2 linked regions of the Homo sapiens genome follow. The protein of the gene in region 1 interacts with the protein of each later gene in a pairwise test. Each region holds a gene or a part of one and is shown on either strand. Other genes may lie near its edges.

Region 1 (8,161 bases):
TGGTTTTTTATTCATGTGCCAGTGCCAACTATTAAGCTTTAAAGGTTTTATAATGCTTTAGTATCTGTTATGATTGTCCCCTCCACCCCTGGCAAAGCTCTCTTTTTCAAGATTTCCTGTGTTTTTCTTATTTCTTTTTCCAACTGAATTTTTTAACAAATTTGTGCTTACAGCCGTGTTCTTAATCAGGGATGTTTATCAGAAGCGTCTTTAGAGTTGAAGAAGAAAAGAAATACTTGACCCCCCACCCAGACATGGTGAATTCTGGACGTTGGGGACATTTGAATTCACATAGTGAATTCTGGACACTGGGGACAATTCTAGATATTTAAAACAATCTCTACAGTTGATTCTGATAATCCCATTTTTAAAAGAGGCCTATAAAGCGTCATAGCCAGGTTTTAATTCCAGACTACTTTATGATTTGTTTTCCCTTATGTATTCTGGCCCATAGTTAATGACTGCAGCAACTACTGTAAGCCAGAAATTTCTCTAGTCCTCTTTCACTCCTTCCTCTTCCTTAATTCTATTTTCAGTTAGTCACCAAACTGAAATTTTACCTCAGAAATATCTGGCTGTAAATCTCCAATGCCACTGTCTCTACCATCATTCTTACGGACTGTTAAGCAATCTCTTAATACTACAGTCTATCATTTGCACTGCCTATACAGTTACTGTTCCCTCAAAACAAGGTCAATCATGCCACTCCTTTGCTAGCCTTTGTTGGCTCTTGTGATAAATTCAACCACCTTACCATGGTACTTAGGCCTTTTACTGTCAGGTCCCAGCCTTCATCTTGGTCATGACATCCCTATCATTCCTTTATCTCTGTCCTTCCCCATACTGAATATTCCCGCATACAGAATTTCTCACTAGTGGATGGACACCAGATCTAGTATCTCTGCATATTTACACTTGTTGTTTCTTTCACTTAGAAGACCACCTCCCACCCCGAACTTCTTTGCCTGGTAAGCTCTCAGTATTTGAGATGCAGTTCAAATAACATCTCTTTGATAAAGCCTTTTCTAGTCTCTCAGTGAGAATTAGTTGCCTCATCCTCTTTATTCTCACAAAACTTTATTATTTGTATCTTTATAATGTGATTTATATGAGTCTCTAATCTCCCAGGCATTTCACACTTTGTACATCAACCAGAATGTGAGCTTTTCATGTTTTTCCAGCCTCTAGCATAGCGCGTAGCATATAGCAAGCACTCAAATGTTTGTTCAATGAATGAAAACAAATAAAGCTTCATTAGGCTGTAATGATTGAAACAGAAACAAGATATAACAGTGGCCAGCTTGTTATACTGTTGAGATCTCTCGTTTGTTTTTCTTTGTAGTCAGCCTTCCTAGACTTCATTCTCTGTACATAGCAATTTCTTACTCTTTGAGGAACCATCTACAATACCCATAGTAGTAAGTTAGATAGCCATCCAACTCTATATCTACCTATTTAAGAAGTTCTGTCTTTGTCGTAAAAACAGATGCTGCTTTACAGAAGAAAGTGCAACAATTTAGTCCATATTGGTGGCATAGTCTGTGGGATAGGTAAATAGGTATAGAATTTCAGAGTTAATTATTCACTAAAATTGGAAAAGATCTGCTTGATCATTAAATTCTATCACAATTATGTACATGATGAAGCACTAATACAGATGATGATCTTGGGTAGAAGACGAAGTCCTGTTGGGAGTTAAATTATTTTATAACTATAGCAACTATTTTATCTGAAGTTTTCCCCCTCAACTGTATGATTATGTTATAATCTCTGAAATGATAAAGTATGATAACATGAAAAAGGGAAGGAATCATATTTTAAAAATAATTTAAGCACAATTTCTTAGTAAGAAGGTATCAAATACTTGGAGTAATCCAGTTTAAAATTTCTAGGAAATCATTTTTTTTTAAGAAGAATCAGTTTAAAAATACAGATTAAATTGAATAATTTTAATTTGTATATCTGAATTACCAAATAACATTAAATAATTTTAAATATATATTTTAATATAAAATTAAAGTTTTTATTATTTTTATTGAAATAGAGAAATATATTTATGAATTTGAGATACCTATGTCAGTCTTTCATTTAGCAACTATTTTGTTAATTATTGATTTCCATATAACTTCACCATTGGGAATGTCACATATTTCCTGAAGTATATAACGAGCCCTTCATAATAAAAATATATTTTAAAATGTCTTTAGAAGACATTAAAATCAAGGTTTTCACTGTCACCCCTTTTCCCCTTTTTTCCAACCTTTTGATGATGATAAGATGTATTTTGTTATAAGTTACTTCCTTGTGCAATCAAGTAAAAGACAACTTTGGGTTGTATATGGCTCCAGCTTGAAATTGCATATACATATTCTTATAAAAATTTTTGAATTATGATTCTAAAATTACTCAGGGGAATGACTGGAGTTTTTATATAGTAGTTAATCACTTTCATTACATATATTGTTTTTTCTGTAGATTAGACATATTTCCACAATTTAAATTAATGAATTTTATTACTTTAAATTATTTTTTTTCACAGGTTTCTTTTCTAAAATCCAGGCAATGTAAATTACATATCATTATGAAACCATTGTTTGGGAAACCAGTGTGGCATCTGCAATCCCAATATTTCAAAATATTATTGGAACCAAAAATTGAACCATGCTTTGCAGTATATTGTTTGAAGTATTTAAGCAAAGGATGTATTCTTAATTATTCGAGTTACAGTGTGCCACTTAACTTTATTTCAAGCGAGGTATATTTTGGGAGAATTCTTTATGAAAATCAAGATAACTTGAATCTAGCACTTTTTCCTTATCTTTTCAAAATTAAATATTTTCAACAGTAATGCTAATGATTAGGTAAAGTGTCAGTAATAGATTGTTAAAACATTAATATTCAATACTTTACGCATAGAAATATCAGTGTATTCCATTTTTTAGTTCCACATACTTAAAAATATTATTTATTTAATGACCACCATTATAGAACAATGCATTAACTTTTTTGTATGTGACTTGGGATAGAAGTCTTAGATACTAAGTGCATTCATACTTATATTTTAATCTATATTTTTCTTCTGGAACATTATTAGTAAATTTTGAGATTATAGAACTGTTGACCCAGTCATACATGTACAGAGCTTGGCCTCCGAGTTAATTAAATATGAGTTAATAATATATTATAAGGAAATTATTGTCCTTATTACAGTTATTAGGTAGTTACTCAAATTATAGCTTGAAAGGAATGCAGAGCATGGAAAACTCAGGATTAAATTATGCATTTGAACCTTAGGCCAGTTTTTACTGTAGAGACAGTTTGCTGCTAAAAGAGAAATTGTATGTCATTGAAATTAAATGCTTTTCTGGGGATGGAAGATTCCAGTTTTTAATGAAATTACTGAGTGTGGTGTAGTGAAATGATTAAAATCTGTATTCCGGGAATGTGGCAGGGAAAAAAAATCAATAAGTGCTAGCACAGCTTTGCTGCTCAATGTGAATCCTGAGAATGAAATAAACTACTACAAAAATAATAATTAAAAACATATCAGCACATTAATTTATTTAGCATCAGTCTCCTGAGACATCATCTTCACTAATTTTTAGCATACATTTTACTCTGTAATGAGCAGCCTTCTTTTCAGATATCCCTATTAGACAGGCAGTATTTCTGCCCTTCCCCCAGTGCTCCTGCATTGCAATCATTGTACTTGCACTTATTATGTTACAAATGACCGAGGTAAGGCTGACATTCTCAGTGCATGCAAAAAGACCGAGTCTGCCAAGCTTTTTTTTTTTCCTAATGAAGCAGCTTTGTGAAATCTCCCCATGTGTTAATACTAATGAAGATCCTCCAGCACAATTAAAATCACAGCCAGTGGCTGAAGAGGAAACATAAAACAATAGCATCTTTTAAGATACATTTATCCACATATGTATAAAATATACATAGATGATCAAATTATTCTCCGATAGCTTAATTTTTACTTACTCTTCATCCTGAAAATTAAATTATGCAATTTTTAATTATATGAACTTTGAGACTTTCTTGTGTTCTGGAGGGAAAAAACGGTACCTCAACGAACTTCTAAAAAAAAAAATACGTATCTTCTTGGCTAATAAAGTGTTATCAAGATTAAGGCTTTTAAAAAAATTGTTTTTAGGAATCTATAGGATGGGGTGCGGGAGGGAATGGGGCCTATTGTATCTTTAGTTTAACTTGATTGGTTGCAGGATTTGGGAATTGGGGTTGGGGGAGTGGAAGGGTAAAAACAAAGTTGGAAGAGATTCTGGGGGTAGACCATAGCATATGACTGCATTTGTAGTTTAAAGGAGCAAAGGGCTACCAGTCTTACTCATAACTTGATTTTTAAAAAGTGTTCAGTGCCTACAATTTGCTATGCTTTTTTTCTAATCTCTCAGAAACTTGAAAAAAAGCTATCGAGATTACCTTTTACAGTGTGTGCATATAACTTTAAAACGACTATTTTAACGTCTTTTATTTAAATTTTATTTTAACTTAGTGCATAAACATTACAGCCAGTTTAACTTGTCCGTGGAAAGGCAGTAGAATTTTACCCCGGGACCGTCTTGCATACTGCTTTTTTTGAGTTTTAACATCCGCAAAATCTTGGCATATTAATTTAGTTGGGTTGTAGAATTCTGAGTTTAGGAACAAAAAAAATTTAGGTGGAGATGGTTGACCTATGCTCCCTACTCTGTAGCTTTTGTTTTTTTAAAAACTAAGTTTTAAATCCCGTTTTCTGTCCTGTCTTCTTTAAAAGCAAAACAAAACATTTTAAGTTTCTTAACTTTTTCCTGGGACAAGGAACGGTGCAAACTCAAAGCTACAGTATTCTTGGAAAGAAGAAGCAACCCCCTCCCTTGGCTCCTTTAGGAGCTGATAGGTCATTTATTATTGGAACTGAAATGGTATAAACAATTCTCTCTCTTTTTTTCCCTTGTTAACAGCAACTTTCATTGTTAGAGAGAGGAGAGAGAGAGAAGCCTTGTTGGTTGACGTCACTTGGTTCATGAAGCCTTCGCCTAGAAGTGAAGCTGCTGAACAAACCTTGAGAAGAATCATCTCCTGCTTCAATCTGCTGCTGGATAGGAACTAATCAGAGAGAGAGAGGCGGAAGACGGAGAAGGAGGGAGTCGAAGGCTTTCCCGATCACAAATCTCACCTCCACTACAACTCTCTTTATACTTTTCTTGCAGAAATAATAATAGAAATAAGGAGGTGGTGGGGTTTCCAAAAATCTTAACCTTCAACCATCTGGGGAAAAGGCAAAAATCCCATCTACCGCAACTCTCAGTTCGAGAGTAAAGGTGAGTTTAAAATCCTCGGGCGTGAGGGGTGCGGGTGAGGATGTAAATTCCCAGTGTTACAAAGCCGGTGGAAACAGCAGCGGAGAAACTGCGCTCGGGCAAGCGGGGGACTCCGGAGTTGCTGCGTGGAGGCGCTCGCCCCGCCGCCCTCTCGCCCTCCGCCGCTGTTTATCCTCGCCGGTCGGTGCGGCTCTTTGTTGTGGTGGCCGGAAGGCTGGGGTGGTTCTCGGGGTCCCGAGTGGAGTTTGGGGGAGGAGGACACGGAGATGTGCCGTCCTGGGTGGGAGGTGGGGGGTGCGGCCTCAGGAGAACGTAAACTTTATTCCTAGAAGCCGGTGCGGGACTTCGCTGGAGTAGGGCCGTGGGTTGTGCTCCCGGCCGGGCAGGCGCTGCCGCCGCGAGTCCGCCGCCTTTGTGCCGGCCGCCCTGGCTTCGCGTCTCCTTCCTCTTCCCCTTCGGCTTCCAGCGCTCAGGTCGCCGCCAACAGTTTTGCTTCTTAAAAAACAACCTCTGTCAGCGTTGCGATGGCCGTTCCTACCCCGGAATATCCGCTGCTCCCCCACTCCCTGCCGGGGTAGTTTCTGGATCACCCCCCACCCCCGTCCGCCTCCTGCTGCCCTTTTTTGCCTCCGCCCCCTCTTCCCTGTCGGACTGACGAGCTGCGTCTGCCACCCCCACTCCCCGGCTTGGGCCTCTAGCTCTCCCGTGTGTAGCTGGAGGCTCTGAGTTTACTGAAGATGAGCGGGGGTGGGGGTGGGGCAGGTGGGATTGGGAAAAGATCTGGATACCTGGGAAGGTCTATGTCAGCACGCAGAAGGTTTGAGGAGCATTGCTTCTCATACAGTAAGGTCTGTGCCTTGGTCTCATGTTTTAGCAGTTCTTCCCCGGGAACGACCGCCAGCTCCCAACTCCTCTGCTTCCCTCTTTTAATCTTCTTGTCGCTACCCCTCCCCCCAGCCCCCGTTCTCTTTCGCGGCTCCCTCCCCTTTAAGTAGTTTCACGAACCCCAGAATTGGGATTTGAGAAGGGGAAGGAAGTGTTTGAAGAGTCAGAGCTGGCTCTGTTGTTTGGGAGATTTTCTCTTCTTTTCTTTCTCCCTCTGTATTTATCTTTTGTCTGTTGCTTCCTTATAAAGAGGGAAGCAGCTGCAGTCCTTGGCCGAGTTGTTGAAATTTATCCCTTTGTGTATATTACAATATCCTCCATTTTTTTTCCTGCCCTCTAAACAACAAGCGTTTCGCCATCTTGGGCAATTTTATTCCCAAGTCTCTCTCTTTTTTATTTTTGAGGAAAGGAAAGAAGTATTAGGAAGTGTGTCTGGATAAGTCTCAAAGTTTAGGGAATGTTCAGGGGGCCCAGTGACGTCATGTAAACTTTACGGAGAAATTTTCCCAAGAGTAAATTTTTTGCTTAATTTTTCTCCTGTTTTATAGGATTGTGTAACTTACAGGTTACTGATAAGTTGTGTGGCTTATTTTTGTGTTTTGCTCTCAAAATCAGTATACGAAGTCTGCGTATTGTATGTTTTGGTAACAGGTGGAAGATTATATGCAAAAAATGGTAAAAAACTTGTGCGTCATTTGTTATTTATCTGGTTTTTGTGTACTTTTTTTTTTAATTTAAAGGTTTCAACTGTTATCTGTAGTCAGTATATTCCCTTTCTTATTTGCTCCACTCTCCCTTATGGATTTTTTGAAAATTAGCTTGGTTAATATTTATGTATGGTTATTTTAGATTATCTGGCTCCCCGTTTCTAATAAAATGTTCTGGGGTTTTCTTTTTCTATTATTTATTTACATTTTGAAAAGAAATGACTATGGAAAATACCTTAAGATAATGGATACTTTAAAATTTAGTAGCAGATATTAAGTCAAACAATTATTGAGTATTTAAGAGGCAGAATTGATTTTAAAAGTTATTTTATAATCGCTAGCTATAAACTCTTTGTCAGCCATTATGAACAGATAAACAAAAACTAGCACTGTTTTAATTTGCTTGTCTAACATAGTTTTTCGCCTCACAAAAGTTGGTTTGGTCACATGACCAAGCTTAATGATACACTGACTAGTATATAAATAAGAGGCACTGTATATTGAATGGGAAAGTGGAATTCTGTCTCCTGTAGTCATTTTCAGTCAGCATATTTACATCTCTTCTAACAAGGACATGAAACTGTCTGTATTTAATTTGCATTCTCTTTGTCTTCTGGGTTGAGGGAAAAACACTGACTACAATTAACTTAAAAAAAGCTAATAGAAACAATTCTGAATACATTGAAAAGGTTTGTGTAACACACAGAAATTTATGTTCTATATGGTAAGTTTTTATTTCTGTAGCAGTCTTCTTTGGTGTTATCTATTTATCCAGGAATTTGCTTCATGTAATATGCTATATAGAAAGCTTGACTGAGTTGAGTGTCTGCCATTTATGTGAATTGTAGGTAGGTGAAAAATGTTTAAATAGTTAAAAGCACATAGAACAGATGGTTCTAAATTATACATGCAACAAAGGACTAGAAGATTTGGCAGATTATAAATGGCAAGCAACAGAGGATAAGCAGTTTAAGAAAATGGTAGTTAAGTACATTTGATGTCTCACACCTATTGTAAACACTGTACATATTATTGTCACTCTGCTGCATAATCAGTAATTTGGACAACATTAAGACACTCGTATGGTTCAGATAGAAAAAAGTAATTTTTACAAGTATTTGAAACAAGTGGTTGAATTTAAAATTATTTTAAGCCTACGATGATGAAGAGTCTTTTTTTTTTTTTTTTTTAGAAAATCAGATTGTATGCTTTAAAAATACAAAGTTATTTATGAGAACT
Region 2 (7,306 bases), about 82 Mb from region 1:
AGCCATGGATCCGTTTGCACTGAGAAGGCAGAGGGTGAAAGAAAGCTAGGAACTTCCTACCTATTCTCAGTGTCAAGCGAAGAGACATCACATGAAACAGGGGTAGGAGACACAAATACAGACGTCAAGCAAATATGCTCTTTAGAGTTGGAGGCAAAGATCAAGGAAATCTACTAAGGCTGAAGTAGATACTCTGCAGGGGAGGAAACATGATTAGGGGAAGGATGTTGGCACTTCTTTCTTACAAGCCTTTCTAGGATTATCTGACTCTACAAATGACATGAAGCTGTAACCTTGATTTGAAATAAGATTAATATGAATGCTAATAAAAAGTAGTAAGGGAGAGTATGTAGTCAATGTATTCTTACCAAATTAACAACAAGTATCAACAAGATGACTAACACAACCACATGATGTCCAGACACGTCTCAGAACAAATGTCTAGCTCATCTTCAACGGTATTCGAGGAACTTCAGTGTGCTTGGTAAAACAATAGCCTACTAGGGATTTCACTTCTAAAATGTCTCTGACTTTAGAAATACCAAAAAATAACATGTAACCAAGTTTTAAAATATTATACACATGAAAAAAGGTTCTTTTCATTATTTTCTTGGTTTCCAGATGTTGAACGTTGTGGTGCTTTTACAATTGAAGAGAAAAAGCATTCTGACACATTATACTGGTTGGGGTTCTCTGCTTTTCTACTTGGTCAAAAACCTTTACACGCATTTTGGACTTTGTGTCATCATAACTTGGCAATTGGGAAAGCCGCATGATATGCTTCTTTCAGAACTTGGTTACTTCTTACCAAAAGAGGGAAAAGCTTTCGTATCACCATTTGCCTATGGGATGGATGCACAATGAACGGGCCATACCAAATAAAAATATCACTTTGTACTCCAAAAAGCATGTTCTCTGCTTAAGCCCTTTCTGTAAGTTTCAGCTGGGACGCACTAATGGAGAATCCATATGACCCACGAAGGATCGTAAGATATCCCAGTGGACCCGGCACAATCATCTCAAATTCTGTTCAGGTCAGAGTATCTTAGATAAAACTCACTGAAGGGCATCAAGTCCTTCAGTACACAGTCTGAGCCAAGCCCTCTACCATTTGCCATGGCAAGAGTATACCAAATTCTAAACCTGTTGCTCACGTATGCCACCAACTATAAATGTCAGCCTCCTCTTTCCTAGTCTTCCTGTCCACTCAGCACCACCTGGAAAAACTCTTACTCGTCTTTTAAACCGCAGTTCAAGGACCACATTCTGTAGGAAGACTTTCCAACAGGTAACCACTGCCTATTTCCTATGTCCACACCTTACACATATTTCTATCATTGCACTTATCACACCATAATGTAATTACTCTTCTACAAATAAGTCTCTCACACTAGACCACAAGCTGCCTGAGGAAAAGAAAAGTCTATATCCTCTTTTTTTGTTGGCTTTTTGAGACACAGTCTCACTCTGTCGCCCAGGCTAGAGTGCAGTGCTACAATCTCGGCTCACTGCAACCTCCGCCTCCTGGGTTCAAGCGATTCTCATGCCTCAGCCTCTTGAGCAGCTGGGATTACAGGCGCGCGCCACCATGCCAGGCTAATTTTTGTATTTTTAGTAGAGACAGGGTTTCACCATGTTGGTCAGGCTGGTCTCGAACTCCTGACCTCAAGTGTCCACCCGCCTCGACCTCCCAAAGTGCTGGGATTACAAGCGTGAGCCACTGCACCTGGTCGAAAAGACTATATCCTCTCAACCTTTGTATCTGCAGAACCCTTAACCCTACACAGCAATTTCCAGCAAATATTTTTTTGAATTGAAATGAAGAAGTGAGGTCATGAGGCTGAAGTCAGACAACTGGAAGGCCAAAACAACAAAACCTGGAAAAATACGTATTTACTCAAGAAGAAATTCTCCCACCAGGCCACTGAGAAGTTAGCTTTGCCCACTGGAGAGGACACTGTAACAGGGATTCAAGTAAGCCTAGTGGCGCTGAGGGACGTGATATAGGTCAACTATATCTTTGAGGTGCTCTCCTTACACTCAATGCACTTTTACCCGAATGACGTTAATTTGACTCCTGATAAGATGAGCTAAGTCCCTTCAACAGTGCTTGGCACCAAGCAAAACTAATAGCAGTAACAGGAAAGTTTAATCCTCATGATGAATTATTTAATGGGGTTTCAAACGCTGTCCCTGAGACTTGAGGCAGTAGGCTCCAGCTCCATTTTCCCCAAGTCTAAAACTTGATAGGTTGATGTTTCAGACTCAGAGATTCGGTAATCCAAATGATGGAAATAATTCTTACCCAAACACCTTTTCAACTATTTTTAAATACTGTTGCCAAGCATCCTAATATCATGTGTACTTAATGAATTTAGCCTAGGGATACTTTTACATGTCAAAAAATCAAAATATAAACCTAAGCACTACGTTTCATCCAGTGTTTCAGCATCCCAGATTTGCTTCCCTAAATGAACATTAAGCTTATTATGCAATGTGCCGCTACCAGGAGCCTTAGACAAAACCCTAATTGTGACTTAACCTATCTTAATAGGGTTTTAAGGAAGTTAGCTGCTAAGAAAGTGACTATCCTTAAGCAGACACCAAATAAATGTGAAGTCATTGATTGAGGGCTTAGGGTATAGGTAGCTATGAATCTGAGGACATAAAACGCAAAACTGAGGGGCAAATCGTCATGTTCCTTAAGATTACGACTCATCCACATTCCTTCAGCCGTTTAATTTCACCATAATAGGCACTGTTTAATAAGCAAAGCCCAAGTCGACTTCCTTCGATTTTACATGGCGTCCAAACACCATGTCAAGTCTGACCCTCTCATTTTTTAAGTCGAATGGAGAGGATATGTAGCAGCTAGCCTTGAGCACCTAACCACTTTTCAAAGGAGCTACGCACAAAAATACCCTAGCAACATGCCACGGTGTCAGAAAGGCTCAGGTTCCCAACACCATGCGGGTCAGCCATTAGGAACTCAGGAAGTGTTTCCTCTAAGCGGGGGAAACCTAGGAAGGCTTCCTGAACGAGGGGTATTTGCGCCAAGCCTTGACGTGAGTCTCGAACAGTTGCAGTGCCTCCAGGCCACGCGGGAGGGAGGAAAGGACACCCCGGGCCGGGGCACAACCCGCGGGCCGGAGCCGCCCGCGCCCATCCCGCTCAGGCCGCAGCCAGGCACGGCACCCTCCCGTCCCCGAGCCACGTCGCTGCTCGTGGGCTCGCGGAGCACTCCCCAGGTCTCACCTCGGGCCCCACACCAGAAGGAGAAAGCTAGGGGCCGCGCCAGCTCCGCCCTCCCCCGCGGGGCGGCGGGCCCCAGCCCGGGCACAGGAAGGCCACGTCCCCGGGGAGGGACGCCCGACTCGATGGTCTGCGCAGGGCCCGTCGGCCCCACGTGACGTGCGCGCAGCCAATCCCAGAGAGGCCCCCCGATCATCGAGACGGCGGCGGTGGTGGGCTAGACGAGTTTCGCGCGGCCGCTCGCCGTCCCCCGCCCAGTCGTACTCGGCGCCCCAGCTCGGTGCTGCCGCCATCTTCTTGGAGGACAGGAGGAGAGGCGAAGGCTCCCCCTCCCCGTGATCGCTCCGCACTCCCGCCACCACCTGCCCTCCCGCGACCGCCTCTCTCCTCCTCAGTGGGCACTTGTCTCCTTCTAACAAACGGCCTTCCCCCCACTCCAGTTACCCACCGCAAGGCGAAGATTCTCATTACCTGTTCCACTCTTATAAGCATAAGAAAACCGAGCTCATAAGGTAGGAACTGTGGCGAAACAGGGACAAGCCGCCATCTTGGTAAAGGAGAAGAGGCTACGCTTGACCTCCCCCCCCACCCCCAGCCTCTATATGGCCAACTGCCGTGGGAGGAGCACGGCGCTTGCGCAGAGGCGGACAACGCGGACGACTCTGGGCTTGCGCACTCGGAAGCCGGCCGCATGGGGGAGGGGAAGAAGGCCAGGTCGCACTGAGCCAGGAAGCAGTTGGCAAAGGGGCGGGGTGACGCGGTGACGCAATCCGCCTGCGCGCTGGGCGGGGCGGGGCGGGCTGGGGCGGGCTGTGAGCGGACCGCGAGCGCTGGGCGGGTCCGCGGCGCGGTCGGTCGGCGCCTGTTCTCGGGCTGTTTGGCGGGTGAGTGTCTCGCCGGTGTACCCCGCACAAGTTGTGGGCCGGCCCTCCCGAGGAGCTGCGGGGGACGCGCCGCTCGTCCCATACTCTCGGGCGGTGGTCGGCTGGCTCTGGGGTGCCGGCGGGGCGGTGTGGGGGAGGGGCGGCCGAGCCCAGGCTCTTCGGCACTTATCGTGGGCTCCCCCGTCCCGGGCGGTCCTAGTGCCGGCGACAGTGGCTCCGACACGGGCAGGCCCGGGCGCGGGAGTGGGGATTCCGGTGACCCCTTGTTGACCCTGCGGGAATTCCTCTGCACTGTCGTCGGTGCTGGGCCTCGGGGCGTCGAGTGCGGTCGAGGTCGGGAGGTTTGGTGCTTGGAGGGAGGATACAGGTTTAGGCCCGACAAACACTTAGAGCTTGTGTGGCCATCTTGTCTTTCTAACGGTGCCATTTCCTCCCTGAGGCGTGGAGGACTGGCCAGCCCCCAAACCTCCAAGCCCATCGGCTGGATGCCGTGGATAAGCGAGGGGAGAGCGACTAGGCCCTGTCTGCGGGTACCTTCGGCGAGGAGAGGCGACGAAGGTCTGCACCAGCGAGGCACGGACAGGCAGCAGGGGGTAGGGTATAGGGTTGGAGGCCGCCGAGTTGGCCCGGGGATGAGGAGCAAACCTGTGGCTTCCGTGGTCTCAGTGGAGTCCCAACTGTGACCTGGCCTACTGGCCCAGACAAACCTGGCTTGCTTTTTTACCTTTTCGGTCTAATTCTTGTCAGTGCCACCAGACCTTGTCCTCTCTCCACGGAAACACACGAACCAACTACACTGAACTTCTTGTAGTTCAAACTTCTGCACCTTTGGCCATTGCCCAAACTCTTAAATCTGGCTACTTCCCACCTTAACTGCCTTCTCCTTACCTAGTCTGTGCTTGTGGGATTCCGCCCAAATTAGATTTCCTCCAGACAGGCTTAGGTGTTTACCTGATGTTCCAGATGGTATTTGTCCAGTGGACTATTGGTGCTGTGAGGGCAGGGCACATGTTGTCACCCATACTCATTGCCTCGGTTGGTGTCTAGCACCTAGTAGGTTCTCAAATACTTTTTGAATCACAGTGCCTGCCGATATATTTAATGTTTCAAAATAGTTCTGCCGTCATAAAGAAAAACATCATGGTGTAGGGGTCATGAAAGCTGATTCTTGATACTTCTGATTTGAGCCTCATTGTTTTCAGTGATTTTTGATAGCTCCCATTAATGGGTTCTTTGCACCACCCAGCATCCTAACTCATGATGTGTACTGTTATGTATAATCTTGGCATTGATCTCATTAGCTATAAAGGTTGTCCTGATTTTTTTTCCTCAACTTCCACCTTGATTTCTCTCACCAGTGCCACAGCCAGGAATAAAGAACAAGAGCGTTTTAATTAGATCAGATTTACATTCTGACTGGCTCTTAAACTAGCAAGGTGACCTAGGGAAAGGGGCCAGGGTTTCCCTCTATCATTCATAAATGTAATTCAGGGCCCCTTTTTATCCCCAATACCAGCATACAGAAACTGCTGTAAAAGAAGAAGTTGTGGGTATTTTTTTTTTTTTTTTTGTCTGGAGGAATGGGGACACCAAAACTCATTTGGCAGCAGAGGTGAGGTAAGGCCATTTGTATTGTCTGTTCTGTTAGTAGTCATACATGCCACTTATCCCTGCCCCAGTCCCTGTTAGGAGTGTTATGTGGGTATACTGAACGTGGACCTTCCCCGAATCCAAAGAATCCAGATGCTTTGAATAAGATCATGGACCTTCCGGGTTCTACATCGCCAGATGTTGTTCATCTTCTATCTTTTGTTTTGCGAAAATTGGTTTTTTATGTGTATTGGGGTTATTCTGTGGAAGAAATAAGCTGTGGGTCAAGATTAAAGAACTTTAAACAACTTCTGGCATGTGGAATAAACACGATCTGAAGGAACAAAATTTTCATTTGACTACATTTTTGGTCCAATTTGCACCCAGTGTTTAAGTTAATCACAGTGCTTGGCAGTTTGTGTTGCTGGATCAAGGCTTTCTCACTGAAAACCATGTGCTTCAGAGGTTCATAATTCCTCTTTCACCTTCCATTTCACATTAGTTAATAAATTATGAGAGAAAACATTGTGGATCCAAGTTATGTTTCAGAAAAAAAAAAACAGGAAAAAAAAAAGATGGCAGGAGAAACTTGGTAAAGTCAAAGCAAAGTTGAAATGTCAGTTTAAGACAAATAGTTTCTCCATTTTCCCATATGTGTGCACAGGGTTCAGTGAGGCTGAGGGGTTCTGTGGAGGTGCGGGAGAGGTGCTCTATGGTATTTCTATGTTGCACTGTGTGGGTTTGAAATCAGATACATGTAATAGGTGATAAGGTAAGTGCCTGCTCTTTTCTATCCTCAGCATTGGCATTTAATCTTTCCATGTGAACTTAAAGCTCATTTTATCCAATCCTTTAAGAAAAAAGCCACACCGTTAGGGATTCCAGTTAGAAATGGACTAAATAACATACTCATTTGGGGAAAATAAAAATGATTTGATTTATGTAGGACCTGTTTTCTAGTTTGGTCCCTACTTGTTTGGATTTTTAAAAATTCTGTTGTAAATGATGTGCCCCCATTTCTATTCCTTGATATTTGTTGCTGGTACTTGACTTACTTGAGATCTTATATTTAGCTACCTTACTAAATTATCGTATTCTAGAATTTTTTTAACCAGAGTATTTGTATTTTCTTTTTTTTTTTTTTTTTGAGACAAAGTCTTGCTCTGTTGCCAGGCTGGAGTGCAGTGGTGCGATCTCAGCTCACTGCACCCTCCACCTCCCGGGTTCAAGTGATTCTGCCTCAGCCTCCTGGGTAGCTGGGATTACAGGCAGGCGCCACCACACCTGGCTAATTTTTGTATTTTTGGTAGAGACGGGGTTTCACCATGTTGGCCAGGATGGTCTCAATCTTTTGACCTCGTGATATGCCCGTCTTGGCCTCCCAAAATGCTGGGATTACAGGCATGAGCTACCGCACCCAGCCGAGTATTTGTATTTTCTGTGTATTCAGTCCAATCAGCAAAAAAGTGTTTTCTTTTGATTTTCTTGTTTCATTATATTCAGTAAACTCACCAAGGTAGTATTAAATAATCATGGTGAAATTGCAATATCTGGATCTTACTTGGATCTTGATTCACATG

Evidence for each region.
Region 2: the proteins of BAZ2B (region 1) and SEPTIN2 interact in binary tests that used the Homo sapiens proteins (3 or more experiments, as listed by UniProt).

What each region holds. Positions count from the first base shown.
Region 1 is NC_000002.12:159,613,411-159,621,571, reverse strand, and holds the start of BAZ2B (bromodomain adjacent to zinc finger domain protein 2B), read left to right. Parts: upstream 1-5,023; 5' UTR 5,024-5,330; exon of another isoform or gene 5,331-6,278; intron 6,279-8,161. UniProt on the Homo sapiens protein: Regulatory subunit of the ATP-dependent BRF-1 and BRF-5 ISWI chromatin remodeling complexes, which form ordered nucleosome arrays on chromatin and facilitate access to DNA during DNA-templated processes such as DNA replication, transcription, and repair.
Region 2 is NC_000002.12:241,311,847-241,319,152, forward strand, and holds the start of SEPTIN2 (septin-2), read left to right. Parts: upstream 1-4,078; 5' UTR 4,079-4,136; intron 4,137-4,331; exon of another isoform or gene 4,332-4,469; intron 4,470-4,575; exon of another isoform or gene 4,576-4,621; coding exon of another isoform or gene 4,622-4,709; intron 4,710-5,652; coding exon of another isoform or gene 5,653-5,753; intron 5,754-6,390; exon of another isoform or gene 6,391-6,498; intron 6,499-7,306.